Regions from separate parts of the Homo sapiens genome. Here all the other regions are linked to region 1. Evidence: fine-mapped expression QTL. A gene starts in region 1. Each other region holds a variant in brackets. All regions are shown on one strand. Distances are from middle to middle.

Region 1 (4,100 bases):
GTACAACTATTTGTGTGCTTGTCAGTATATTATCAGAGAAAACCTGACCTTTAGAGTTTAAGCACTGTTCTAGGTCATCTTTAATAAAAATTTAATAAAAATAATGAAACTAAAAAAGATACTCTCCCAGTACCTGTTCTTCCCTCTCCTTTTCTTTGGTCTTACTTCTGTAGACTCTAGCAGAGATGGCATCCTGGGATGGAATGGCAGAGATCTGATGCAGTGGCATGCTCATCCCAACCTCTTATCTGGTCGTCTTCTTCACAGAAGAGAGTCTCCACTGGTAGAGTCATTTTGGGCCATGGATTTCAAGCTGAGAGAAAATGAAGAGAGAATAAACATAACTCAGCTAAAACACTTTAAATTTCCAAGAGTGAGCTTAACATTTTATACTTATATTCATATGTATATTTAAATAAGTTACGGCAACATAAATGTTTGGTCTTCAAAAACAATAGAAGATGAATGTCTAAGGGGAAAATTCTAACATTTCTCATAATAAGATGGGAGCACCTGAAAGAGGCAGGTGGATCACGTACATGTATAATCAGAGATATAATCTTCCATTGGCTACTTAGGATTAAAACAAAGCAGTGCCACCATTTATTTTAAGAATATTTTTGAAGTTAAACTTTTTTTTTTATCATGACCAAGCATTTGTCCTGAAATAAGCAGTGATCTTTCCTTAAAACCACTGTCTGTGAGTCCACATAATGGTGAGATCAGAGGTTAGGAAGTCCAAATTAAACTCAAGGTATCTATGATCCATACTTAACCTTCCAAAAGTAGAGACTCTACACGAGCTGTTGGCAAACTATTCCTATAAAGGGCAAGATACATATTTTAGGCACTGTGGTCCAAGTGTGTTCCAGCTAATTAACTCTGCCACTGTAGCATGAAAGCACCCATAGAGAGCATGTAAATGGGCCGGGTGCGGTGGCTCATGCCTGTAATCCCAGCACTTTGGGAGGCCAAGGCGGGCAAATCACGAGGTCAGGAGATCGAGACCACCCTGGCTAACACGGTGAAACCCTGTCTCTACTAAAAATACAAAAAATTAGCCAGGCATGGTGGCGGGCGCCTGTAGTCGCAGCTACTCAGGAGGCTGAGGCAGGAGAATGGCACAAACCCAGGAGGCGGAGCTCGCAGTGAGCCAAGATCGCACCACTGCACTCCAGCCTGGGTAACACAGCGAGACTCCAACCCCCCAACCTCCCCCCCACCAAAAAAAAAAGAGTATGTACATGAATGAGCATAGTTATGTTCCAATAAAACTTTATTTACAAAAATAGGCAGCAGGCTAGATTTGGCCCACCAGACTATAGTTTGCCAAACACTGCCGTAAAGGGTTTCCTAGGGAATATGAAGGGTCACCATGACATGCCTAAGAACCATGAGAAAGGCTGCCTTTAGGTAAAATAACAGTGTATGCATAAACTGTCTTCAGTGATTCCAGGTACTCCTGCCCTGTTTCTGGTTTTCTCTTACGCATCCCCCAAAATGTCTAATAATTGAATTGTGTGTTGTTCTTTCTCCCCACTTACCCACTGAGATCTATCCCACTCTGTATACAAAACCAATTAAACGTAAATTATCCAGAAGGTTTAATGTAGTAAAATGTTTCATGTTGTTCAAATTTTAACAGAAAATGGAAGCCTTCAACCAAAAGAATGAATCTCGAATTTGGAGATTTTCATTTATTAACCATGTGCTGGGGTAGGGGGTGGGGACAGGTGAGGCAGTAGGAAAAGGTAGGGTAAACAACAGGGCCTGACAACCCCAAGGTCACATTTGATAAGCAGTCACTTACTCTACCTCTCCCCAAACTCTACTCTGGATCAAAGGCAGGTGTTTGTAAGGCTGGTGCCAATTCTTAGTAGTGTCACTAAGCAAGCAGAGGAGCACCAGGAATCACGAAATGGCTTCCTTCACACAACTCTAGAATCAATGAACAACAAAAAGGAACAAAAACTGGGAGGGATCAACACATAGAAGAAAATTAGCTAAAATAATAATCTGTTTATAAAGTCTAGTTTTACAGTAAGTGAGTGACCATTGATAATAACAACAAAAAAAGGAAAATAGAATAGGGGATGTTAGTGTCTAGGTATCACACACCACCTACTCTATTTCAAGCCTTTGATGAGGCTGGCATAAGATGGAGCACTACTGTGCCCAAGAAACAGTCTGAATGTTTGTATTCAAGCACGTCACACAAAACAAGAGGCACTTACTGCGGAGCTGCCTTATACTCCCTGGGAGATCACAATAGTCAGTGGTAAGCAGTTTTTTCATCACTAATGCACTAACGTCCTCTATTACAGATGACAAACTCCATGGGGCCTCTTGGAATACTTGGTCAAACTGACGATATCCACAGCCCTATACCTACCATGCCAAAAGCTACCTGTGGTGCTTCTGATATAATCATCATTATTACATCATTGGTACATGCCCATGACAAGCCTGAGAAGGGCTATTTATGGCACAGAAACACAGATGCAAGAGGGTCTCAAATTTTTTACAGTTTTGAAGGACATCCCTCCTCACTGTCATTGAAGTTAGTCTTTTGATATGTACCACCACAACAAAGCAACAGACCTATAAGTTTGCCTGAAACAATCTCCCTCCTATGCCACACATATTTAGGATAAAAATGAGTTTACAAACAAACGATAAAACAGGCCATGCCATTTTTTATGTGAAGATTTACATGAAAAATACAAATCATATATTACATTATTTTCTTTGCATAATTTCCAAACATCTTTTATATCAACTAAATTAATCTTTACACAGAATAACAGTTAAACCTCAGCACTATGCCTCACAATCCAGGCATGAGGGCTTCAATTTGACTAATGCTAACTTGCAAAATACAGCCCACCTAACATGAACATTCACATCTAGAAGAGATACTGCCAAAGCTGGTTGTTGAAGAAATTGGAAATGGATGTCCATGTTCATGGATCAGAAGATTTAATATTGTTAAAATGGCAATTCTTCCCAAGTTGACATAGAGAGTCAAAGCAATCTCTATCAAAAACTGAGCTGACTTCTTTACAGAAATTTGACAAGCTGATCTGAAAATTTATATAAAATTCAAGGGACTCAGATCTGCCAAAACAACCTTGAAAAAGAACAAAGTTGGAGAGCTCACATTTCCAGATTGCAAAACTTACAACAAAGGAACAGTAATCAAGACTGTGTCATACTGGAATATGAATAGATATATCAATGGAATAGAATTTAGGGCCCAGAAATAAACCCACGTATCTATAGTCAGCTGATTTTCAAGAAGGGTGCCAAGATCACTTCTTGGGGAAAGAGTACTGTTTTCAACAAATGGTGCTGGGACAACTAGATAGCCACATGCAAAAGAAATTTGGATCTCTTCCTCACACAAAAGGAAAAACAGACAAACTACACATCATCAGAATAAAAACTTTTGTGCTTCAAAAGACACCACTGAGAAAGGGAAAACACAGCCAGTCATAATGGTTCACACCTATAATCCCAGAACTTTGGGAGGCCAAGGCAAGAGAATCTCTTGAGGCCAGAACTCAAGAAAGGCCTGGGCAATATAGCAATACTCTACCTCTATTTATAAATGTTAAAAAAAAAAAAGTCTAAAGACAACTGACAGAAGAAAAAGTTTGCAAATCATATATGTAATAAGGGACTTGTATCTAGAATATATAAACAACTCTCTTACAACTCAGTAACATAAGGGCAAGGCCAGGTGCAAGTAGCTCACGCCTATCATCTCAGCATTTTCGGAGGCTGAGGTGGGAGGACTGCTTCAGGCCAGGAGTTCAAAACCAGTGTGTGAAACATAGCGAGGCCCCATCTCTACCAAAATAATAATAATAATAATAATAATAATAATAATAATAATAATAATAAAGACAAATAACCCAATGAAAAATGGGTTAATCAACATCATTAGCCATCATGGAAATACAAATCAAAACTATTAGATATTACTTTAATTATGTTCATAATAAAAGACAAACAAGTGTTAGCAAGGATGTTGTGACACTGAAACCCTCATATACTGCTAGTGAGGATCTATGCAGTCGTTTTGAAAAATAGTCTGG
Region 2 (4,100 bases), 62 kb before region 1:
CAGTGGCCTTTTAAAGGGAGTCGGAATTACTTGAGTAGCAATAAATCCCCAGAACAATGAGGGGAATATATTACAGCACTGGTGGAGGGGACAGAAGGCCACAGCTGAAGGGACTTTTTCAGGACTGTCTTCCTCCATGCTGCAGCTGAGGATCTTGCAAATATAATTTGTTTTCAATAAATTACATTGAAGACAATGATTTCTGAGCAAAGGTGGCTTCACAGTCCCAGAAACTAAAGATGTAACCATATAAAAATCCAAAATCACCAGAAATAACACGGTGAAAGGGGCTGTGTTTGTGAGTTACTTATCACTCACAAGGACCCTTTAATACTGTTGATTTCCTTTAAATATTGAACTTTTCAAATATAGTCGAAATACATTTTCATTGCCAAGAGGCAATAAAATATTTCCTCTGAGAGAATTCTGGGGCAGTGGCCAAAGCACTGGCTTTTGACCCCAAAGTCTTCCCTCTGTGTTCTGGGGCCAGTCCACTGAGCACACTACCGAGCAGGAGTTTAATCATTTAAAAAATGAGGTCAACAATCTACAGGGCTGCTACTAGGATCAAATAAAGTCAAGGGAGATGCAGAAATGCAGCACACACCACTCCAGGCACACCTCCAGTGTGGAACAAGACTTCCGTGTGACTACCACTCTTGATTCTTGATGACCTAGAGAGTAAACCTGCAGGTCTCATATCTGCTACAAAATGCCTCATTCCAACCAAGGTAACCACCGTCCACCCACCTGGGAAGAAAACAGCTTCTGCTCAGGCTACTCATCTGGCCAGCCCTGGCCCAAGATGCACAGAACTCTAAGAGCGAACCCTGAGCCGCGGAGTATACTACTGACAGAAACATGGCAGGCAGGAAAAATGACCCTCACTTCCTCTAGGCCTAGGCCCTCCTTTCCCGGCAACTGGTGGCCTTTCCCACCCCTCCTCCTCCTCCCAGGAACACTCCCACATTCCAACCCAGCATGATGGCCCCTCCTCCTTTCTGAGGAGAAAGGGCTTTTCATCCCTGTTATCATATCCTTGTACCCTATTCATTTCTTTCACTGCACCTATCAAGGTTTATAAGAAGATGTTACTGGGATATGTTAACTTAGAAGCTGTTGCTGATTGGTCTGGTACACACTAGGTGTTTAGGGAACATTTGCTCAATGAACTAAACAGCTACCCTCTGGGGAGACTGTGCCTCTACAACAGAGATTCTCAAACTTGTTGGCCACAGGACCTCCTTAAACTCTTAAAAATTACTGAGGCCCTCACAAAAAGCTTTTGTTTACACGGGTTCCATCTCTCCATCTTTGCTATATTAGAACATCTTAAAACACAGGAACATATTCCACCAGCTAAGGAAGATGCTATCCTGCATGTTGCTTAGCTTCTGGAACTCCGCTGTATACTTGTGGAAGAATGAGAGTGAAAAATGGAAATAATCTTGGTATTATTGGGAAATTGTTTTAAACCTGCCCCCCTTCCACCTTCAGGAGACTGAACCAAACTTCAGCCAAAAACTAAACTGTAACAGTCAGATGAAAAAATACTGCAAAGACAGTCGGTTAAACTTTGCAAAAGGGGAGCTGAACGGAAACAC[T/C]GCCTCAGTGCTGTCAGGATTCGAGTGAGGCTCAGTGGTGCTGAGGCCACCTGATGCCATGAAACTCCTCCAATTCATCCTTTGTTTTTGTCACTTAGGAATAAATATCCTGTTTTGGGACAGCTGTTTTCTTCAGAATAAATTAAGAAAGCACATTTTGCCTTATTTGTAACCCATAAGTTTTGAGTAACCTGAGCGTGTCACTGGTCAACTCTGCATTCAGAAACAGAAAGAAGCAAACCCTGGTCTTGACAATCACATCCAGGTCTGCCCTCGCGTAATAAAAGTGGGTCAGCAAGAATTCCTTGTAAGGAATGTCCCTCTGATACGTGACATTCTGCTGTATCTCATCCCTGTCTAATGGCAACAATAACCGGAAAATATTCAGGAGGCCTAGGAGGGTTAGTGCTCAAATTCATTGAGATGTGCTTGCCAAGCAATAGAGCAATCATTGTAATTGCTCATTAAACATGTCCAGTCTGATTCTACCCAGGAATATTTGATTAACAAGAGGTACATATCACAGTCTGCAAGGCCCCAGCCTTGGGCAACTGCCAGAGCCTACAGAGCCAGGCTGGCTAGGGGGCTGGCAGAGAGATACTCGTGCTACGGGCTTCCACTGCCTTCTCCCTGGGGTAAGTGCTGCCAATCATGAACTTGCTCAAGAAATTGTGTCACCTGGACCAAGTTTGATTCCCAGGGTTGAATGAGAAGGCTTCCCTGGGGATAAAATAACATTGTGTCTATGTACTGCCCTTTTTGCACCACAATCTTCCTCTGAGAGGCATCAAGAGAGGCTCCAAAAAGTCCAGCCCCTATGATTAGCCTAGCCTAGGCCAATTCCTGGTATTAAAGAAATTCCAGCTGAATAGAGTGGGTTTAAGCCTCCTCTGCGAATTTCAATCAGCCTCTATAGGATTTTAGGCCAAAGTACTCACATGAACAGCCACAGTCAACACAATCTTGTGGTTACAGCCACCTGCAATAGGGTGCCATGAGAGCCATCACCCCCAGCCACTGAAGATGCCTTTCATTGTCCATCTAAAGTACTGGACTTTCCAAGCAGGTGACAAATGATCTTTCTACTACAGTTTAACCTCATCCTGGTTGGCTCCTTTCCACCTCTCACATCTGCTTTACATGTCTCTCCTGAGCCACATCTTCTCTGAGCAGTCCTTCAACTTGGGTTCCCTGTAATTCTCTACCTAAGCTCCTTACTGTTCCCTTTGTAGGAATTCTCTCCATCCGTGGTATCGTATAGAGGTCTGCGTACTTCCCTCTGCTGTTTGGTTCAGCATTCAAAGCACAATTTCTGGCACACAGTTAGGTGCTGGACAAAATCTCAATGTGTGCAATCCTCGTAAACTCTGCATGGCCTCCTTGTCTCCATGTTAGAGATGAGACATATTGTCAAATGGTAAGACAGCCTGCAGGTGGGGGCAGTGGTGGCACAGGACACAACGTCCTGAACAGGCAGTCACCTCACGTCACCTGAGTCCACCCTGAGGCCATGCCCAGTACACTGTGCATCGCCCCTGCCAGCCATACTCTATGGCTTCCTGGTACCCCGAGACAATGGCCCCTTGACAGGCAGAGGCTCACAGCAGAGATGGAAAGTTGGCTTGCCCCATCCCCACCCCTCCCTTCTCTCTACCACACAGCCTCCTGAATACCCATCTGTCAGAGCTCTATCTCACAAAGGGCCATCACAATGAGTTTAGGTGATATAATGAAGAACATGCTTTTTAATAGTTATATTTTCACATTAAAAAGTTAACCAATCAAAATCTAGAGGAGGGGCTTCAAGATGGCTGACTAGAGGCATCTGGTACTTACCTCCTCTACAAAGAAGAACCAAAATAGCGAGGAAGAATCAGACTTTGAATAGATCATCTAACAGAGAACACGAATTCAACAGAGAAGTGACAGAAAACACCTAGAGCAGGCAAGGAGAGGGCAGTCAGGCAAGGCAGCCAAGAGGTTCCCCAGTGTGGGGAAAGGGGAAGCGAGCGATCCCCAGCGGTCCACATTCCTACCATGCACTTCTGCAATTCCAGCCATGACAGAGCCCTAGACCCTCACAGGCCTTGAGGCTAACAGAGGGAGCTGCCTGGAGATGGCGAGAAGGCATTGCTCCAGGGAGGGAGCTCGTGATGGGTCCCACACACCCCTGGAGTCCAAGGCAGCTACAAGAAGACACCATACTGAGAGCCCAGTCCTCAGGAGACTGCATCCTGCTGGGGGCCCAACAGTCCCTGCTTCTTCACATCCCTGGAACCCCACTGATATTCCTCACCACAGCCATTGCAGCAGCTAGCTGCTGCTGCCAGGGATGAAGTGCAAACCATTTGGCAAAGACCCTGCTGCTTCCAGCAGTGAAGCCACTGCACGTTTTCACAAGCGCCAAGGACAAAGTGAGCAAAGTGTGCACTCCCTAGCCGCTGGCATACCTATTGCCACTGAAAGCAACCCCACTCTCCCCAGTAGTAGGGCTGC
Region 3 (4,100 bases), 66 kb after region 1:
TGTACAGTGCATGGCTCTATAATGCCACCCAATCTAATACAACAGATATGCTAGTGTTCCCACTAGAATAGATGAATGTAAGGACTAATGGGGAGCTTGCAAACAAAGGAAGAAACTAGCAATAACCTAGTAAAGTGTTGCAAAGCTATGTGGTAGAGCCAACATTGAATTCACGTTTCCTGGTCCCAAATCTAAATGCCTTTTCCTTTTTTTTTGTTGTTGTTGTTGTTGTTGCCTTGATATAATACTTTTTCCTTTTTATTAATAACCTTAATAAAGATATAGTTTCACCAGACTCGAGTTCACCAGACTGGAATTCAGAGGAGAGATATAGAGATATAAATTGAAGATTAGGCAGTGGTATTCAAAAAGCCACATGATTGGATGAGATCACACAGAGAATTATTTTCATATCTTTGACCTCAACCCAAAATACAAAATACATTTTACATATTAACCAAATACATGTATATAATTTAAAAGTTTCCAGAAACAAATTTACCATTCCTACGTGTGATGCACGATTTCTTCTGTTTAAATTTTTCACTCCGAACTCAATTGATTTTTTTAACCCAGTAACAGTTGTGGCCTACAGTTTGAAAATCATTGAAAGTCACCGATCTAGGACGTTCATAAGTCCGAATTGCATAATTGCAGCAAAAGAAGAGACTGAAAGGCTAGACATCTGGTACTGTAGAGATAAGAAGGAAATTTAGAAGAAGCAATCAGAGTTAAGAGGAGAACTGGAACAGAGGAGTCCTGATCAAGTGAAGAAATGTTTCAGGAGACAAGTGCCTAAAGGTGTCATTTGCACTGAGAGGCTGAGTCAGTTGAGGATTGACCTCTGAACTGTCAGTGTAGAGATCACTGAGACCTTGGGAACAGAGCAATTAAGATAAAGTGGTAGGATTAAAAGCCTGATTCTTGAGATAACAGATGGTGACGACAAGTAAATACAATCATTGCTTTCTTGCTGTAAAGGAGAGCAGGGAAATAGGATCATAGTAGGTAAGAGATGCAGGATTGAGGTTTTCTGTTTAAATATTTATATGCTAATACAAATGCTGTAATAACTGGATGTACAAGAAAGTGACAACTGTAAGAAGGAAAATCTTGAGTAGATTGGAGGAGTCATCCTTAGATAAGGAAAAAACAAGAGAAGGGGAATAGCAGGCCACAGATACAGATAGCTTGGTAGATTCGTTGTTGAACATGAAACTGACCCAATAGTCCCATAGACAGTTCTTTTGGCCAAACATAGAAAGTGACCCTTCTTTTCTTAAAGCTCGAAACTTACATTTGTTTTATCTGAGTTCCTTTCTCGGGAAGGACCCCTGGCCTCTGAAAAAGTATCAAATAATTGAAACTTACCAGATTACCACATTCAGACAATGAGATGCCAGACCCTTCCTTTTGTTTCCTTACCGCTCCCTAGTTCGTGTTTTCTAACACACTGTTACACTTCTTCCCCGCTATATAAACCCCAAATTTTAGTCAGGGAGATGGATTTGAGACTGACCTCCCATCTCCTTGGCTGCAACACCTGATTAAAGTCTTCTTCCTCAGCAGTGAGCACCAAGACTTAGACAGAATCCCCGATGTTTCTGTATCATGTGGAATTTCTCTTCGATTGTTGATAGTTTAATAAAATAAAAGCTGAGCATGACAAGAGGGAGAGAGGTGCTGGTGGTTTGAGAAAGGAGAGCATGTGACTATCATCCAGGAGCTGCTACAGCCCAGCCCAGCCCTAGGATCTCCCACGTGGATGACTGCTGTATATTTCTCTCAACTTCCATCCTTGCCTCCTTACAGTCTTTTTTTTCCTACACAATCGCCAAAGTGACTTTTCAAAACCATGTCAACCCCAGTATTTTCCCAATTCAGAATAAAATCCAGAAGTGTTTGGCTCTAAGTCCTGCATGATCTAGCCCCTATTTCCCATCGTCCTCTCACTTGCTTTGCTCTAGCCACCTGACTTCCTTGCTGTTCCTTAGTCTCCTCAAGAGTAGAACATTTCCTTCCATTTCTGAGAGGTGACAGCGTGCGCCCTCGCTCGCTCTCGGCGCCTCCTCGAC[C/A]TTGGCGCCCACTCTGGCGGCGCTTGAGGAGCCCTTCAGCCCACCACTGCACTGTGGGACCCCCTTTCTGGGCTGGCCAAGGCCGGAGCCGGCACCTTCAGCTTGCAGGGAGGTGTGGAGGAGGCGTGAGCAGGAACCGGGGCTGCGCGCGGCGCTTGCGGGCCAGCTGGAGTTCCCGGTGGGAGTGGGCTTGGCGGACCGGCACTGGGAGCGGCCTGCCGGCCCTGCCGCCCCGGGCAATGAGGGGCTTAGCACCCAGGCCAGCGGCTGCGGAGGGTGTGCTGGGTCCCCCAGCAGTGCCGGCCCACCGGCGCTGCACTCCATTTCTCGCCGGGCCTTAGCTGCCTCCCTGCAGGGCAGGGCTCTGGACCTGCAGCCAGCCATGCCTGAGCCTCCCCCTCCTCCGTGGGCTCCTGTGCGGCCAGAGCCTCTCCGACCAGCGCCGCCCCCTGCTCCAGGGCACCCAGTCCCATCGACCACCCAAGGGCTGAGCAGTGCGGGCGCACGGCGCGGGACTGGCAGGCAGCTCCACCTGCAGCCCTGGTGTGGGATCCACTGGGTGATGCCAGCTGGGCTTCTGAGTCTGGTGGGGACGTGGAGAACCTTTATGTCTAGCTCAGGGATTGTAAATACACCAATCGGCACTCTGTATCTAGCTCAAGGTTTGTAAACACACCAATCAGCACCCTGTGTCTAGCTCAGGGTTTGTGAATGCACCAATGGACACTCTGTATCTAGCTAATCTGGTGGGGAGGTGGAGAACTTTTGTGTCTAGCTCAGGGATTGTAAACGCAACAATCAGTGCCCTGTCAAAACAGACCACTTGGCTCTACCAATCAGCAGGATGTGGGTGGGGCCAGATAAGAGAGTAAAAGCAGGTTGCCTGAGCCAGCAGTGGCAACCCCCTTGGGTTACCTTCCACACTGTGGAAACTTTGTTATTTCGCTCTTTGCAGTAAATCTTGCTGCTGTTCACTCTTTGGGTCCACACTGCCTTTATGAGCTGTAACACTCACCATGAAGGTCTGCAGCTTCACTCCTGAAGCCAGCGAGACCACAAACCCACCGGGAGGAATGAACAGCTGCAGACGCGCGGCCTTAAGAGCTGTAACACTCACCAGGAAGGTCCGCAGCTTCACTCCTAAGCCAGCGAGACCAGGAACCCCACCAGAAGGAAAAAACTCCGAACACATCTGAACATCAGAAGGAACAAACTCCGGACACGCTGCCTTTGAGAACTGTGACACTCACCGTGAGGGTCCGCGGCTTCATTCCTGAAGTCAGTGAGACCAAGAACCCACCAATTCCGGACATGTTTCCTCACTTCCTTTATAGCTTATTTAAATGTGACTTTCTCGAGGTTGTCTTTGACCATCCTTTGTGAAACAGCACTCCTATCAATGTCACCTTCCCCTGCTTGGTTTTTGTTATTAGCACTTATTGCCATCTCTGGCAGAGATTTATAGCACATTAAATATCCATTTGCTACCAGCTCCTTTCATATAACCCTTGCAATTAGGTCAGGCCCTATAAACAATGGGCTGTGAGCAAAAAGGGGCATATACACATCTAGGCAAAAGCACCAAATGCAACCCTCCAGCTCTGTCTTCCCCTGCTGCAGTGATCTAGACCACATGTTGCAGTGGTGAAGCCACAGAGTGGACACAGCCTAAATCACTGAGTCACTGCCTGGGTCAGCTGTTCTGGGAAGTTGCCTGGCTCAGTGAGTTTTCCATGGTGGAAAAATAAACTTTGTTGTGTTAAATCACTGAGCTTTTGGGATTGATTTGTTACCACAGCATAATGTATTATCTGATATGGTCTAAATTGTGTCCCTCCACCCCCAAAATTCATATGTTGAAGTCCTAACTCCCAGATCTCAGAATGTGACTGCATTTTGAGATAGGGTCCTTAAAGAGGAGGTTAAAAAAGGAGATTAGAGTGGGCCCTAATCCAATATGACAGATGTCCTCATAAGAAGAGGTGATTAGGTCGGGTGCGGTGGCTTACACCTGTAATTCCAGCA
Region 4 (4,100 bases), 140 kb after region 1:
AGTTTCACTTTTGTTGCCCAGGCTGGAGTGCAATGGTGTGATCTTGGCTCACCACAACCTCCGCCTCCCAGATTCAAGTGATTCTCCTGCCTCAGCCTCCCTAGTAGCTGGGATTACAGGCATGTGCCACCACGCCCGGCTAATTTTTTTGCATTTTTAGTAGAGATTTCTCCCAACAGGGGTTTCTCCATGTTCGTCAGGCTGGTCTCAAACTCTCAACCTCAGGTGATCCGCCTGCCTCGGCCTCCCAAAGTGCTGGGATTACAGGCGTAAGCCACTGTGCCCAGCCTACAACCATCTTTGACAAACCTGACAAAAACAAGACGTAGGGAAATGATTCCCTATTTAATAAATGGTGCTGGGAAAACTGGCTAGCCATATGTAGAAAGCTGAAACTGGATCCCTTCCTTACACCTTATACAAAAATTAATTCAAGATGGATTAAAGACTTAAATGTTAGACCTGAAACCATAAAAACCCTAGAAGAAAACCTAGGCAATACCATTCAGGACATAGGCATGAGCACGGACTTCATGACTAAAACACCAAAAGCAATGGCAACAAAAGCCAAAATAGACAAATGGGATCTAATTAAACTAAAGAGCTTCTGCACAGCAAAAGAAACTACCATCAGAGTGAACAGGCAACCTACAGAATGGGAAAAAAATTTTGCAATCTACCCATCTGACAGAGGGCTAATATCCAGAATCTACAAAGAACTTAGACAAATTTTCAAGAAAAAAACAACCGCATCAAAAAGTGGGCAAAGGATATGAACAGACAGTTCTCAAAAGAAGATATTTATGCAGCCAACAGACACATGAAAAAACACTCATCATCACTGGTCATCAGAAAAATGCAAATCAAAACCACAGTGAGATACCATCTCACACCAGTTAGAATGGCGATCATTAGAAAGTTAGGAAACAACAGATGCTGGAGAGGATGTGTAGAAATAGGAACACTTTTACACTGTTGGTGGGACTGTAAATTAGTTCAACCGTTGTGGAAAACAGTGTGGCAATTCCTCAAGGATCTAGAACTAGAAATACCATTTGACCCAGCGATCCCATTACTGGGTATATACCCAAAGGATTATAAATCATGCCACTATAAAGACACATGCACACGTATGTTTACTGTGGCACAATTCACAACAGCAAAGACTTGGAACCAACCCAAATGTCCATCAGTGATAGAGTGGATTAAGAATATGTGGCACATATACACCATGGAATACTATGCAGCCATAAAAAAAGGATGAGTTCATGTCCTTTGCATGGACATGGATGAAGCTGGAAACCATCATTCTCAGCAAACTGTCACAAGGACAGAAAACCAAACACCGCCATGTTCTCACTCATAGATGGGAACTCAACAATGAGAACACTTGGACACAGGGAGGGGAACATCACACACTGGGGCCTGTCGTGGGGAGTGAGATGGGGGGAGGGATAGCATTAAGAGAAATACGCAATATAAATGACGAGTTAGTCGGTGCAGAAAACCAACATGGCACATGTATAGCTATGTACCAAACCTGCACGTTGTGCACATGTACCCTAGAACTTAAAAAAAAAAAAAAAATCAATTCCCAAAGCATTTCTCTCATTTCTTCTGAAAAGTTTCTAAAAACACAACTCCAAGGATGAAATGGAAGTTAAAGGTAAACAGGCAATAGCGCTGAATACGTAATTTCAGTAACTCAGAATTTTCTCCAACCTCTGCTCTAAAGAAGCTTAGCTACAGAAGAGCAGTTACCTTTGAAACATTTTCCCCAACATAAAGATATCCGGAATGTGAAGCTGCCATTAAAACTGTGACACAGATCTACATTTACTGATACATCAAAACATCCCTAAAGTTCGAAATACGAGCTACAGAATCACATCAACCGCCTAACTTGTCTGTAGCCTAAACTCTAGTCCGGAGTTCATCTGCAAGCGGAATTGGGAAGTATTTCAGAGCCAGCATCTCCTCGCGCCATCCAGGTACCTACACACTTGAGGCCACCGAGTCACCTGCGCAGCCGTTGCTCCTCCAAGACCAATCCGGGCTCCCCAGACCCACCGGCCTGAATCTGGAGGACAGCAGTCCGCGTGACAACAGCGACTCGGAGATCAGCACCCGTCGGGAAAGCCGCGTACC[C/T]GTTGAAGCTGGCGTCACGCCCAAAGGAACAAACGCCAGAGCGTGTGTCCTGGGCAAAGGCGGCCCGCCGCTCCGGTCCCCGGGCAGCAGCGGCCGGCGTCAGGCCGCAAGGCGAGGGGCGGGGACAGGACTCTACCCGGCAGCCCAGCGCCGAGCGCCCGCGCCACTCCGGCCTTGCGCCATTCCGGCCCCACGACGGCCGGCGGCGGCAGCGCGGCTGGGCTCAGCGGCTCGCAGCCCGGGCGCCCCCCCTGCCGGCCGCTCGCTAGCTCAGCCTCACCCGCAGTCTTGTCCGCTGGCTCGCTCGCCCGCCTACAGGTCGACAGGGCCCAACGACCCGGCGAGCAACTTCACGGAAGGCACTGGCCGACAACGCTCCGCTGCCGCCGCGCCCCGCCCCTTTGTGACACCACCTACCAATCGCTGGACGGCGCTTTCGCTGCCCTCCAATCAGCGCGGGCGGGGGCAGGCCTGGCCCCCGGACGTGGGCGGTTGCCGGGGCGCCAGGGCCCTGGGGCCTTCTTGGCATTCGCTGGAGGTTGTGAGTTACGAGGCCCGGATGTTGATCTTTTATTACTAGCAACACTGGACCCCTGACTCGTGCCCACGCGGGCGTCTGGAGGGCAGCCGCATGGCCTGCTGGGAACGGCGGGGTTGAAGCCGGAGCCGCCCTCCGTGAGACCCACCGGGGATCCTCTTCCAGGCGCCTGATTTGCTGGAGATAGGCGATACAGGCAGACGCTGTCCAGTCGGTGGCCTCTCCAGAGTGAGGGGCGCTCCTGGTGCGTTTGGGCCGGCCTGTCCTAACAAATCTGCTTTAGGCTTCACCGTCCCCTAATGTTTCTGGCCTCAATTGCCTCATCTGGAAAATGGGGGCATTACCGTGCCTGCTTGAAGACAAAGGCGAAAACAGATAACTTTCTGTAGTCCTCATACAATTTACTGAGAACTGTAGGCCAGGCAATGGAGTAGGCACCCTGGGCTCAAATCCCAGCGTTGGGTAAGCCCAGCCACACCTCCTGCTCCAGTTTCCAAGCTGCTGAGCTGCGGTGTAAACAGTAACTGGCTTCAAGCCAACACCTGCCTTTCAACCTAACATGGGAGCCCACTGCCTCGTTCCGTTCCCCCTACCGATTTTCCAACTCCGTGAACCTCCTTCACTAAGTGGGTTACTCAGCTGACAAAGAATGTCATCTCACTCCCACTGCGGGTTCACTCATCCTCGACTTCTGGCTCAGAGGAGCCAGTCTAATATGAAACTAAACATCTAATCTGTGTCTCCTGTCCTCTCTCATTCTTCTGAGACCCTACCCACCAACTTATCTCCACAGTTCAACGAACTATTGAGCATACACTGGGGGAGTATGGTGAGGCACTGGGCATTGATTCACCAGTCTCGCCGTTGGTTCCTTCTGAAACTCCACATATGCTTAATGCTAAATAGATTGGAGACCTTTGAGGACAGAGCTATGATGGTAATCATCTTTGCATTCCTGAGCCTAGAATAGGGCCTGTGATGGAGACTTACTGAGTAAAAACCTTAGCGTTTCTCACCCTTGCCTGCCCACTTCATTCACACTGGAGAATTGACAGCATGGACCGTGGAGTCAGGCAGGTGTGTTTAAAGCCTTGCCTCCCAATACCAGAAGCTCCATTACCTGGCCAAGTCATTCATTCTTTACAACATCATCATCATTATCATCTGCCATTCTTCAAGTGCCAGATAGTTGATAAGGGTCTTTACGTATTCTCTCCCCATCACAATCCTGCAAAGTTGGTAGTGAAATCCCTCGTCTACAAAGGAGTAAACAAAAGCCAATTAAAGTAGAACAATTTACCTATAATCAAACAGCTCTATGTCGGAAAGCCATATTTAAACTAGGACACAATACAAAAATCCAACCTTGTTCCATTATTCCACATTGCTTCCAGATTTTAGCTTTATCTGTAAA
Region 5 (4,100 bases), 59 kb after region 1:
TGTTTATAGTGTATACAGTGATAATTTTTCATATTCACAGGGAACAAAATTAGAAGCCATAAGAATAACTTCCTGATTACTTGGCATCAGAACAGTCCACGGCTTTAGAAAATGTCTTGCAGTCAACCACAAACCTAGGGAACAGGTAGGGTTGTAAAGTGTCTTTTACGGGGGGGAAAAAGCACATACCATTTCAAGGCTCGAAAAAATGAGGTTACTTTTAGAAATTTCAGCAATATTTTTAACTTGCTTTCAGATATTTTAAACTACTTACCACCAGAAGTATAAACCTAAACATTATGTGATTATAGCAGAAATGGAACTACTACATAAGGGAAAAAGAAACAAACCACAAGTGAATCAACGACAACCCTCAAGAACCAGACGCTACTACTGACAACCATTAGGGTTTCTTGGCTGCTTGAATCAATTCATTCCCAGCTCTGCTTTGAGCTGGCACTAATTTAAAGGAGACAAAAATGTTGGAGCTAAGGCTGCCAGATTTAGGAAATATAAATACAGCAAGCCCAGTTACACTTTAATTTCAGACAAACAACGAATCTTTTTTTTAGTACAAGTATGCTCCCACGTAATATTTATAGTAAAAATTTATTTTAAAAATTTTACAAAAATTCACTGTTTATCTGAAATTCATATCAACTAGGCATCCTGTATTTTATCTGGCAAACCTAGCTGGAGCCAAAAGGTAGAATAGTAATCAATCCAATTTCCTCATTTTTCAGCAGAAACTGAGAACCAAAGAAAGGAACTGACTTGCTTAAGCTTAAGCCAAAGATCAGGGAAGTAAGTTGGTTTTGAAAAGAGAAAACCTTTCCACTAGGTCACCTTGGGTACCACTTACAGTACATTCCACTTCCAATTCTTGCTCAACTCACAGAAGCACCAAGCAGACAAGGTGTAAAAGAGTATGGTTTCCCTCTTGTAACATTAAACTTCAAGTTTCAGTACATCTCTTAAAACCCTAGTCTCCAAAATCAATTAGGAAACTATGTGCTACTCTTAAAAAAAAAAAACCTGATAATTTTGTCTACACACTACCACCTCATACTGTTTATATTTTCACTCACCATATGAAACAGGACATCCTTCTCTCCTGAACTCAGTTCTCTCAAAATCCAAAATTCTCTTGCTCCAGGGTCTCAAGATTTCACACAAGAGCATGTTCACATTATTTCATGACTCTCAACGACTTGAGTTCGTATACTCCTTCAGTTTTCATGCTTTTTAGCGTTTTCATGTTTTTCAGATATGTCCTAACCCATTCGGTTGGCCTCAAAAGTCTCCCATTCCCATTCTGTATCGGAGCAACTAAATCAGCAATGAGGAATGAAGTCTCACTATTATAAACATACACTTACTTCCCCAGGGACTGGGATGCAAGGAAACATGGAAAGAGAAACGTCTTTATCAGAAATTTTGGGGCCAAAAAGGCCCCGAAGTATGGTATGTGAGGGTTATGCTAGCTGTCTAATTACATAGCATGCAATCGAACAAAATAAAGAGAAAAATAACAGAAAACTCCACACATGCAAAGAATTCATTTTCCAGATCCCATCAAATTAAAAAATACACAAAACATTTCCTCAACTCCATACAGAGCTCCTCAACCTATGACTTGCAGGGGTCCTCAAGGGTAGTTAGCGTGGGGATGGGTGGTGAGAATAGTGATAGTGAGGCAGAAAAGGGTTCCATTTTTATTTATTTATTTTTACAATTTGGGCTTCCAAATAGGTTTTAAGAAAAAAAGGTTTTGTTGCATTAAAGAAACATGAAAACGGTAACATAAACCATTATAACCCCCACCCAATAAGTTTTCTATTAAAAACTTCACCCAGGTGGACAGGAATACGAATCGTTTAAGATGAAAACAGATTTAAAGACCAAAGAAAAGTTAGCAATTAAAGGACAAAATAGTTACCTATGCTTTCCTTCTGGCACCCCGAATGTACGCAGGTCTCTCGAGATCACACGTCAGACGTGGAAGGTCCTCACGGATCACTAGTCCGAGCTTCCATTTTACAGATGTGCACACTCAGGCCAAAGACGACGGCTGACGGGCCAACGTCTCACAGCCGGTCAGGGAAAGGAATTCACCTGGCACCCGGGGCGGCCGGCCTAGAGCCCTGGGCGCTGACCGTTTCTGCGATTCCTGGTTCCGCT[C/T]GGCCCGGCCCCAGGGGCAGACGCGAGCACCGGGGCAGAGAGACCCACTGCCTGGAGTCGCGCTGCCTCTCCGCGGGCTCCACGCCGGGCCCGCAGCGCAGGGATGGGTCCTTGGCGGCCGCCCCCACCCAGCCCAGCCCAGCCCAGCCCAGCCCAGCCCACCTGTAGCCGACGCGCTGCCGGCAGCCACACCCCCTGCCCGGGCCGGGGGCTCGGCCGCCCTTATTGGCGGCCAGCGGCGGCGGCTGCGCGCGGCGTGGGGGACTCCGATCCTAGAGGCCGCAGGAGTTACCTCAGGTGGGCTCTGAGCTGGCGGCGCTACCGCCCTGGCCCGCCTCGAGCATGCCCGAGACGTGGACGCAGCAAGGCCGCACCTCCCCCAGCGCGTCGCCTGTTTACACCCTACGCCCCTCCGCGGGAGGACACCGAGTGGCAGGTCACGTGACGCGGGCGTCACGTGTCCGGCCGAGTTGGGTGGAGGCGTTGCCCCGGCGACTGCAGCGCGCTGGGGGCGGGCTGCAGCGGGTGCCGCCGCGCGGCCTTTCTGTGCTTCCACCCCTTCGCAGTGCCCAGGCGACAACCCACTGGGCTTGGAACCGAAAAGACTTCCCCAGCTCTGTGTGTGTCGTTTAGTGTCTCCTGGCCCTGACTACATGTTATTAATATTAGTGTTTTGGAAGGAAAAGGAAATTTTGTCTGGCAAAAGGATGTTTTACTTGGAGAAGAAGATGGAAAATACTTTCTTACCTGAGGCTATCAAACGGGAGGAAAAGCGAAGGAATAAGTAATAACGGTTTTTGCCTTGACAGATTTTTGTTTGCTTTCGCTCCCTAATCTGGACTGAAAGATTCCCACAGCATAGCCTCTCAGCCAGAGAAAGCACGTGAAGGAGGTTTATACGACTTCTTACTTTTAAGTTGTATTTTAATTTTTATGGGGGAATCATCTCTGTGTACATACAGACGTCTAAATATTTGATTCTGCATTCATCTCTTTTTTTTTTTTTTGAGACGGAGTCTCACTCTGTAGCCCAGGCTGGAGTGCAGTGGTACGATCTCGGCTCACTGCAAGCTCCACCTCCTGGGTTCACGCCATTCTCCTGCCTCAGCCTCCCCAGTAGCTGGGACTACAGGCGCCCGCCACCACGCCCGGCTATTTTTTTGTGTTTTTAGTAGAGACGAGGTTTCACCGTGTTAGCCAGGATGGTCTCAATCTCCTGACCTCGTGATCCGCCTGCCTCTGCCTGCCAAAGTGCTGGGAATACAGGCATGAGCCACTGCACCGGGCCAGACTCTGCATTCATCTTTTGTCCACATAAAACTCTCATTATTCCTCTGTCACTTTCATCACTGTCTACCAAATCCAATTTTCCTACATCAAACTTCCCAGAAATAGTTTCAACCACTGCCAGTTTTATTTCTCCCATAATCATGCATAAAAGATGAATAATTTGTATTTCTTAGTAAATTCATGAGTGAATTATAAGCAAATCCTCTCAAATATTCCATAGTTGTTCTGTTGTCCCGGAGTGATCTATCATATAGCTAATCAATTCCTCCCTACAATTCTGACCACTTTGAATTTTTGGCTAAGTAAAAAGCAGATTGTCAGGTTCAAAACAGTGTGCTCAAGATATCCTCTGGATCAGCAAGGTCAAAACATCTCCATTTCTATAACACACTTACAATACAGTATTACAAAGAGCAGAAAAATGATGAATTTTCTCCATTTGTCTTTTACTGTGGAAAATAGGTTATCAAGGCCAGTTGCCACAACCTGGTTGGCTCTACTGCTTCTGGCAGCAGGTGTTCCATGAAGGTAGTACCAATATCTTCCATTGGTATAGCTTATGCCTAGACCAGGCTTGTTGAGCCAAAGGGTTGGCTGACTGATGAATGGATATGGAATCCTGTCATCCT
Region 6 (4,000 bases), 100 kb before region 1:
CTTTACATTGACGGGAAAATACCAATACTCCAGTGGAAAAATGAGCAGAGAATATGAATAGGCAATTCACAAAAGAAGAAATGTAAATGGGCAACCAGCATATGGAAAAACTCCTAACTTCACCTGTAGTTAGAGAAATGCAAATGAAAGTTAACAATGAGATATCATTTCTGACATGCCTGGTTGGAAAAACAAAGGGGTAACTCCCAGACACCAGCAAGGACGGAGCCCCATGCTCTGCTCATGAGTTGTTGCAGCCTGGCAGTGTTCACGGGATAACTGGTGGGCCTGGGCAGCCCAAGGTCAGAGCTTCGGCCAGCACCGGAGCAAGGTCAGAGCTTCGGCCAGCACCGGAGCAGATCCCACAGCGCCTGCTGTACCAGGTGCATGTTGCAGTGGGCGGTCAGAGGGTCCTGGGGTTGAGGCTGTCGTGGCGAGGACAGTTGTGTTACCGAGCTGGACTGGGATCTGCTTGCCCAGTGCAGCAAAACCAAACACTGAGATTGGGATATAATCTACGAGAACACAAGGCATTTATTGCGGGGACCAAAAAAGGAGAATTGGGCAGCTCACTCTTAAGACCGGAACTCCCTGATGGCTTGCAGGTAAGGGTTTTTAAAGGCAGAGTGAATTTCAGGAATTGCAGAAGTTAACAGGCAAAATCATTAATCAATACATGGAGGGTACACATTGGTTTTGGCCTAAAAGGGCGGGATATCTTGAAGTGGGGGTGGGCTTCCAGGTCATAGGTAGATTCAAAAATTTGTTGTTTTGAAATTGGTTAAGGAAGAGAAGTTTCATTTAAAAATTTGGGTTACCAGAAAGGAATGTTAGCTGTGGCTTGTGGGCGGGACTTCCCCCAGGCCCCCCAGGAAGAAATTTAGAACAAAGAGCCTGCTCAGAGTTCAGTCCTCAGTTCCGTCTTATCTGAGGTCTCTGTGCCAGTGGATCGGTTTGGTGGGGGTCTGGGTTTCTGAAAAACAACTCAGAGACACATGTTCAGGGGTTCTCTTTAGTTTCCAGAGGGAACCAAACAGCCCAGGACTCTGGCTTCCTTGGCTGTTGTTTTAGGCTGCTGTTACCCTCTTGTTTGTCAAGTTGCTCATTTATTTCTCAGGGCTAGCTAGGTGCCTGGAACTTCCCTTCAAGGAACTCGGGATTTTCCTTCATTTCCATGCCCTGTTGCGGGGCTGGGGGGCTACAGTGCCCTAAGAGGAGGCCCCTGCCCCGTCTCAATTGGAGGAGCACTGGAGGGGACTTTATTGTTTAAGTGTTCTGACAGCCAGTAGCACTGAACAGGTGTGCACCAGGAGAGTGAAACTGTCTGAGGAACAGTAGGGCAGGCACTGTCTACTCGAAAACATACCCAAACCCCCAAGGCTCAGCCTTCGCTAGCAGCCACTCAGCAGAAATGAAAGCACAAATGTGTGTGGGTAGCAACAGGAGCATAGTTTGTGATGGGGAAAAAAATTGAAAACAGTCTGAAGGCAGAAGAGGATTGAGTGAGTGAGCCCTTCCATGTCCTCACCATAAAATGTTGAGGCGTCTTTGAAAGGAATGCTTTGGTTCCCTTCCAGCTGACCTGGAGGGGTCTCCACAATGAGTTAACAGTGGAAAAACAAGACACAAGGGACCGATAAAGGATACATATCTGTCGTATACAAATAGCTCCTTCAAACTGCTAAGGCAATGGGCATGGTCTCACTTATGTAAAATGAATGCAAGGATGCAGCAGGCCTACTGTGCCAGCATGGGGACACAAGGACGCAGTGTCACCAGGTAGGAACACAGTGATGGCCCAGTGGGGGACAGGTGAGCAAAACAAAGAGACAGATGTTGATTATAATCATATTCAGTTGATGGAAAATTGGACAGATAAATGTGCACACATGCAAAGACCTATGAAAGGAGGCTCCCCAGAATTTGGTGGTTATCCCTGGGCGCTGGAAGATGAGATGATGTTTTCTTTCTCAGGCTCTCCTGTCATGACTCAGATTTCTTTTTACGATAAGCACATATTCTTTTCTAATCAGAAACGCAAAGCTACTTCCTTACCCAAAAAACAAATTTAAGAAACACAAATTGCTCAGGGCAAGTTCTGGCATCCCATGGCAGGCCAAAATCCTGGACAGGAGTGGGAGGATGTGAAGGATGGGTTGGGGAAGGCCCAGCTCAGTGGTACAAGAGCTCAAGGAGATGGGCAGGTGAGGCCCGGTCAGGCCGGGAGGTGAAGAGAAGCAGAAGGGAGAGTGATGGGCTGAAATAGGCAGAGCACTGGGCCCATCCTCATTCAGCTCTTTTTTTACTGGTCAGAACAGTTTTTTTTTTTTTAATATATAAAATTTTAGATTCAGGTACATGTGCAGGTTTGTTACATGGTTATATTGCATAA[T/C]GCTGGGGTTAGGCTTCTATTGAACCCATCACTCAAATACTGAGCATAGTACCCAATACCCAGTTTTTCAACCCTTTCCTCCCTCCCTCCCCTTCCTGGAGTCCCCAGTGTCTTTTGTTCCCACTTTTATGCCCATGTGTACACAATGCTTAGCTCCCACTTATAAATAAGAACATGCAGTATTCGATTTTCTGTTTCTGGGTTAATTCACTTAAGATTATGGCTTAAGTGCCAATCCTAAGCTGCATCCATGTTGCTGCAAAGAACACGATTTCATTCTTTTTTATGGCTATGTAGTATTCCTTGGAGTACATGTATCACATTTTCTTTATCTGGTGCCACTATTGATGGGCACCTAGGTTGATTACATGATTTTGATATTGTGAACAGTGCTGCAATAAACATATGTGTGCCTATGTCCTTTTGGTAAAACAATTTCTTTTCCTTTGGGTAGGTACACAGTAATGGGGTTGTTGGGTCAACTGGTAATTCTATTTGCAGTTCTTTGCAAAATCTCCAAACTGCTTTCCACAGGGATGGAAGTAATTTACACTGCCACCAACAGTGTGTAAGCATTCCCTTTTGTCTGCATCCTGCCAACATCTGTCATTTTTTTACTTTTTAATAATAGCCATTCTGACTGGTATCCCTTTGTGGTTTTAATTTGCATTTCTCTGATGATTAGTGATGTTGGGCATTTTTTCATATGTTTGTTGGCCACTTGTATGTCTTCTTTTGAGAAGTGTCTGTTCCTGTCCTTTGCCCACTTTTTAATGGTGGTGTTTTTTCTTAAGTTCCTCATAGATTCTGGGTATTAGTCGTTTGTGGATGCATAGTTGCAAATATTTTCTCTCATTCTGTAGGTTGTCTGTTTACTTTGTTGATAGTTTGTTTTGCTGTGCAGAAGCTCTTTAATTTGATTAAGTCTCATTTGTCAATTTTTGTTTTTGTTGCATATGCCTTTGAGGTCTAGTCATAAATTCTTTGCCTAGGAAATGTCCATAAGATTTTTTCCTAGGTTTTCTTCTAGAATGTTTAAAGTTTGAAGTCTTACATTTAAGTCTGTAATCCATCTAGAGGTAATTTTTGTATATGGTGAGAGGTAGGGGCCCAGCGTCATTCTTCTGCATATAGGTAGCCAGTTTTTCCAACACTATTTATTGAATAGGATGTCCTTTCCTTATTGTTTATTTTTGTTGATTTTGTCAAAAATCAGTTGGTTGCAGGTATATGGCTTTATTTCTGGGTTCTCTGTTCTGTTCCATTGATCTCTGTGCCTATTTTTGTACCAGTATACCATGCTGTTTTTGTTACTGTAGTCTTGTAGTATAGTTTGAAGTCAGGTAATGTGATGCCTCCAGCTTTGTATTTTTGCCTAGGATTGCTTTGGCTATTCGGCTATTTTTTGGTTCCATATGAATTTTAGGATTTTTTTTTCTAATTCTGTGAAAAATGATGTTGATAATTTGATAGGAATTGTGTTGTATCTGTAGATTGCTTTCTTCCAACCCATTAGCTGGGATGTTTTTCCATTTTTTTGTGTCATCTATGATTTCTTTCATCAGTGTTTTATAGTTCTCTCTGTAGAGCTCTTTCACCTCCTTGGCT
Region 7 (4,000 bases), 94 kb before region 1:
TTCCATGTGTGGGGTAGCATTATATGTCTATTGGACAGCACTGTTTTCGAGGGAGAGACGCCCAAGGACCCCACCTTCCACAATACTTATAGCAAGTGACACAGCTGTGTGCTCTGGGACAGTTCTCCCTCCCCAGCCATGACCACTGTGCTGCAGTGACACTGGTCTTTCCCAGCACCTAAAGTCTGGCCATGCCCCTTCCTGGCCGCTCTTGGCTGCAGCCCTGCCACCCACCTCATTCTTTCTGTCAACCCCTCCAATACCCCATGTCTTCATGTAAAAATGGGCAATGCCAGCACCTGCTGCCGGCTCCCGTGAGAACTCACTGTCGGGTGCTGAGGCTGTGCTGGGCTCTCAATAAGGGGGCAACGTGCAGGGCTGCTGGCATGGAGGGACCTGGGGCTGGGTGCTGGTGTGGGGGCACGAAAGTGAGGCTGTGTGTACAGAGGCATCAGCAACCAGGTCACCACAGAGCTTGGGGATTTTATTTTCTGGCATTAAGAGGTGATTGAGGAGGCAGTTAACATGACATGATTTGCATTTTGGAAAAGAAAAAAACTCACCTTGTCCCAGTGTGGAGTGGAAACTGGAAAGGGAAGACAGGTCCAGCCTCTGCTACAGGAGGTGCCTGGCCACAGGTGTGGGCTCCAGGCAGAGCTCAAGCTGCAGACCCTGATCTGGGAGGCTCAGTACCAGGAGGGCCCCAAGCCTTTAAACAGGAGGAGCTGACTTAGGGCAAGAAAAGAAGACAGGAGCACCAGGGCAGACCCTGGGGAGCTCCAGCATTTCAGGGAAGAGGAGAGGGAGGAAAGTATGAGAGACCAAGGAGAGGCAGTAGAAGAGGGAGCAGGGCAAGGAGGGAAGAGGGGGACAGCGATCCTCCCCCTCCGCTGCTGGGCCTTCGGCCTGCCCGCTCCTTCCATGCTGCCAGCTCCTGAGTAACTGTGAGCCGAGCGATCACTGTCCCCACATGACAGATGCTGAAGCCGGAGCTTAGAAAGCCCAGTGTGTCATCCAGAGTCATGCAGGTTGTAAGTAATATGGCTGGGACAGGAAATACCACCGCAGGGCCCTTTACCCCCTCCAGGCTCTTCTGATTCCAAAGTCACTGTTAAAGAAATTCAGATACTTCTGGAACTTCCCAAGAGGCGAAGTTCTCCAACAACTATACTCTGAAGTGAAATATAGCAGTGTGTTTCCTTTCCCCCAATGTATCAGCTCAACCAAATCCCGGGAGATGAGAACCCTATTTTCCTCCCTTCGGATGCAAAATACGACTGGCTTTTGGCCAAAATCTGGGTGCGTTCCAGTGACTTCCACGTCCACCAGACCATCACCCACCTTCTGCGAACACATCTGGTGTCTGAGGTTTTTGGCATTGCAATGTACCGCCAGCTGCCTGCTGTGCACCCCATTTTCAAGGTACAGCCAGCTACCGCCCCACCTGCTATGGGAGGGCATCTGAGATGTGGAGTGGGAGGGATCACTGACATCCCACAGGGG[G/GA]ACCTGTGGCTGGGAGTGGGTGGCAGAAAGGGAGCCCTGGAGAGATGTTCTCAGAGTCAGTAATGCCCCTAAAGGAAGAAAACAGCTAGGAGCCTGCTGTTCCCCAGGACACGCGGCTGGGGCATGGGCCTGACACACGGGCCTCGCTGGCCAGCCAGTAGAGTTGGAAAAGGCAAATGAGTTCATGGTGATCCTCGGCTGATGCTGATGGCCGCCCCTGCCATCACTCTCCGTCCCTGTTCTCGAATCCTACAAGCATTGGCTGCTGGGGTGACTGCATGCTAAAAGTACCCATGTGCCTCAGTTTCCTCACCAGTAAAACAGGTCAAATAGTACAGCTGCCTTACAGAATGATGGTCAGATTAAGACAGTGAACTCAGGGAGCAAAGAGGTAAGCATTGTACAAGTGCTGGCCAGGACCCTCTGAATCATTATCATGCTTAGTAAGCATCAGAGGGGTGCAGGCCTCCAGCACTTATTCAGCAGAAAGATCAGCACCCAGCCTTCACTTCCTCCCTGCGCCCAGCATCATCCTATAGGGCAGGCCTGGGTGGGGGAGCTGCGGGTCCCTGAGGCACCAGGTCACCTGACTGGGCCCCCTCTGAGGCCTCCTCCTCTCCCCTCCCCAGCTGCTGGTGGCACACGTGAGATTCACCATTGCAATCAACACCAAGGCCCGTGAGCAGCTCATCTGCGAGTGTGGCCTCTTTGACAAGGTGGGTGCCCTCCTACCCTACTTGTTGCCTGGAAGAGCCCAGCCTGGCCGCCTTCACTCCCTATCTGAGATCTAGACACCCTTTCAGGAGGCCTGGAAGGGTGAAGGCTGGAGTCTGCTCAGAGCACTGGCTCCAGCATCCTCCTGATGTCTCCAGCCCGTGCCATTCAGCCAGGAGCACTCCTCCAGGCGCACCACCAGGTCTTCCTTCTCACTGATGGCTCCTGGTCCCCTCCTCCCACCCCTCCCCTCTCCCAGCCTCTGGGACCTGGGTGTAGACCCCCCTCTGGAACACACTCCTTATGGCCCCCTGACCTCCTACGCACCAGGAACCTGTGTCTGCCTCTTAATCTGCCACACCCCTGCCACCCTGACCTGGACCTCCCCAGCACTCTGCTTCCCGGGTCCCAACCCTCCCAACCCACTGTCTCCTGCATCGGGGACTCCAGGCCCTGCCCAGCCCTCGCATCCCTCAGGTAGCACCCCACCTCGTTTTGAGCCCTCTGTAGCCTTACCAAGCTTGGACTCTCACATGGGCCCTTGCCCCAACCTTCCTCCTTTCCCCAGCCCATTAGTGACCAGGCCAGATGACCACTGAAGTTGAGACACTGTTTGGGCTGCAAATGACAAAACCCAACTCAAACCAGCTGCAGCTGGACAAGACATGCCTTATCTCAAATACCTGGACACAATAGAGGGTCGGGGGCCTCAGCCAGAAATGGATCCAGGGACTCAAGCAATGCCCCAGGGTGCATGCACACTGGCTCCCTCTTTCTGTCTCTTTCACCTGTGTTGGCATCACACTCTCCTGCTGCAGACAGGCCCCCATGGGAGAGGGCACAGGAGCTCATCATAGTAGCTCCACCTCAGGTTCTCATGTGGCCATTATCTCCCAGCCGCATCTAAACAGAAAGTGCTGGGGGGCAGCTCTGGTTGGTCCTGCTTGGGCTGAATGCCCACCGTGGACCAATCTCTGGCACCCCAGCACCCAAGTCCTTCTTCAAAACCTCTGTGGCACCGACAGCCCAGCCCCCTGGGTGTATTTGCATGTGTGTGTGTGCACGTGGACACACATATGTGCCAGTGAGCTTGTGAGTGTGTCTGCATCACTCAGAAGCCGGGATCGGGATCAGGACCAGGATCCCTCCTTGTGGGTCTCTCCAGCCCTCACCTGAGCACACAACAGGCCCTCAACAGAGTTGCATGGGTCCTGGAAACTGAGGGTCACTGAGAGCAATGACTGAGGGTCGTGTGCTCAGCACTAGAGCAGACTTCACAGCCCAGGCCCGCTGGTGCTGGGGTCCCCCACACACCTGCCCACGCCTGCTGCCCTCCTGTGGCTGGGAGCGCACCCTTCCCTCTTGTACTCTGCAGCCCCACGGTTCAGTCCCTTGCATTGGATTGGGCGGGAGGCTCCTCCCTAGCACCTCTCCACCCGGCTGCCCTTGTCATTCTCTGCGTTAAACATCCCTCCCCCATCTCACAGGACAAGGGCTTGCACCTCTGCCTGCCTGGCCTCCTCGCCTCCCCTGGCACATTTCCTCAGGGATGGGTCTGGACAGCTGTGGGAGGAGCCACCCGCTCAGGGCACTCTACCTCCCACTCCAGGCCAACGCCACAGGGGGCGGTGGGCACGTGCAGATGGTGCAGAGGGCCATGAAGGACCTGACCTATGCCTCCCTGTGCTTTCCCGAGGCCATCAAGGCCCGGGGCATGGAGAGCAAAGAAGACATCCCCTACTACTTCTACCGGGACGACGGGCTCCTGGTGTGGGAAGCCATC

Alleles and levels. Positions count from the first base shown, and alleles are read on the strand shown. Sizes are in standard deviations (SD) of each study's normalised expression. Not every link is listed here.
As copies of C replace T in region 6, the expression in visceral fat of the gene that starts at base 2,395 in region 1 goes down (small effect, 0.27 SD a copy in GTEx).

What was found. PIP is the estimated chance that this variant, and not a neighbour inherited with it, causes the effect.
Region 2: its variant is fine-mapped to the expression of MARCHF8 in blood mononuclear cells (TOPMed, PIP above 0.99).
Region 3: its variant is fine-mapped to the expression of MARCHF8 in transverse colon (GTEx, PIP 0.97).
Region 4: its variant is fine-mapped to the expression of MARCHF8 in blood mononuclear cells (TOPMed, PIP 0.98).
Region 5: its variant is fine-mapped to the expression of MARCHF8 in whole blood (TOPMed, PIP above 0.99). The same link has a PIP of 0.9 or more in blood mononuclear cells, lung, monocytes, monocytes after LPS, monocytes after Pam3CSK4 and sun-exposed skin.
Region 6: its variant is fine-mapped to the expression of MARCHF8 in visceral fat (GTEx, PIP 0.97).
Region 7: its variant is fine-mapped to the expression of MARCHF8 in whole blood (TOPMed, PIP 0.99).

Annotation. Positions count from the first base shown.
Region 1 is chr10:45,532,977-45,537,076 of GRCh38, forward strand. MARCHF8 (membrane associated ring-CH-type finger 8) reads right to left here and starts at 2,395. Exons shown (of 8, transcript NM_001282866.2): 1 at 2,235-2,395; 2 at 134-313. The coding sequence starts at 235.
Region 2 is chr10:45,471,212-45,475,311 of GRCh38, forward strand. All of the region lies in intron 3 of MARCHF8 (membrane associated ring-CH-type finger 8), which reads right to left. All of the region lies in intron 1 of LOC105378286 (a long non-coding RNA gene), which reads left to right. Among named protein-coding and RNA genes, the nearest start is that of MARCHF8, 62 kb to the right of the region's middle. RefSeq lists an enhancer at 3,638-4,100. The variant T/C (reference allele first, on the strand shown) is at 1,605.
Region 3 is chr10:45,598,551-45,602,650 of GRCh38, forward strand. No RefSeq gene overlaps it. Among named protein-coding and RNA genes, the nearest start is that of MARCHF8, 65 kb to the left of the region's middle. The variant C/A (reference allele first, on the strand shown) is at 2,076.
Region 4 is chr10:45,670,251-45,674,350 of GRCh38, forward strand. It overlaps ZFAND4 (zinc finger AN1-type containing 4), which reads right to left and starts at 2,522. Exons shown (of 10, transcript NM_174890.4): 1 at 2,000-2,522. RefSeq lists a silencer at 2,105-2,824. The variant C/T (reference allele first, on the strand shown) is at 2,149.
Region 5 is chr10:45,592,296-45,596,395 of GRCh38, forward strand. It overlaps a transcript of MARCHF8 not described here. Among named protein-coding and RNA genes, the nearest start is that of MARCHF8, 59 kb to the left of the region's middle. RefSeq lists silencers at 2,099-2,168, 2,269-2,428, 2,709-2,778. The variant C/T (reference allele first, on the strand shown) is at 2,182.
Region 6 is chr10:45,432,945-45,436,944 of GRCh38, forward strand. The region is part of intron 7 of ALOX5 (arachidonate 5-lipoxygenase); the gene reads left to right. Among named protein-coding and RNA genes, the nearest start is that of ALOX5, 61 kb to the left of the region's middle. RefSeq lists enhancers at 1-361, 362-900. The variant T/C (reference allele first, on the strand shown) is at 2,393.
Region 7 is chr10:45,439,212-45,443,211 of GRCh38, forward strand. ALOX5 (arachidonate 5-lipoxygenase) reads left to right here. Exons shown (of 14, transcript NM_000698.5): 8 at 1,219-1,422; 9 at 2,133-2,219; 10 at 3,827-4,000. Among named protein-coding and RNA genes, the nearest start is that of ALOX5, 67 kb to the left of the region's middle. RefSeq lists a silencer at 2,371-2,602 and enhancers at 2,959-3,729, 3,730-4,000. The variant G/GA (reference allele first, on the strand shown) is at 1,504.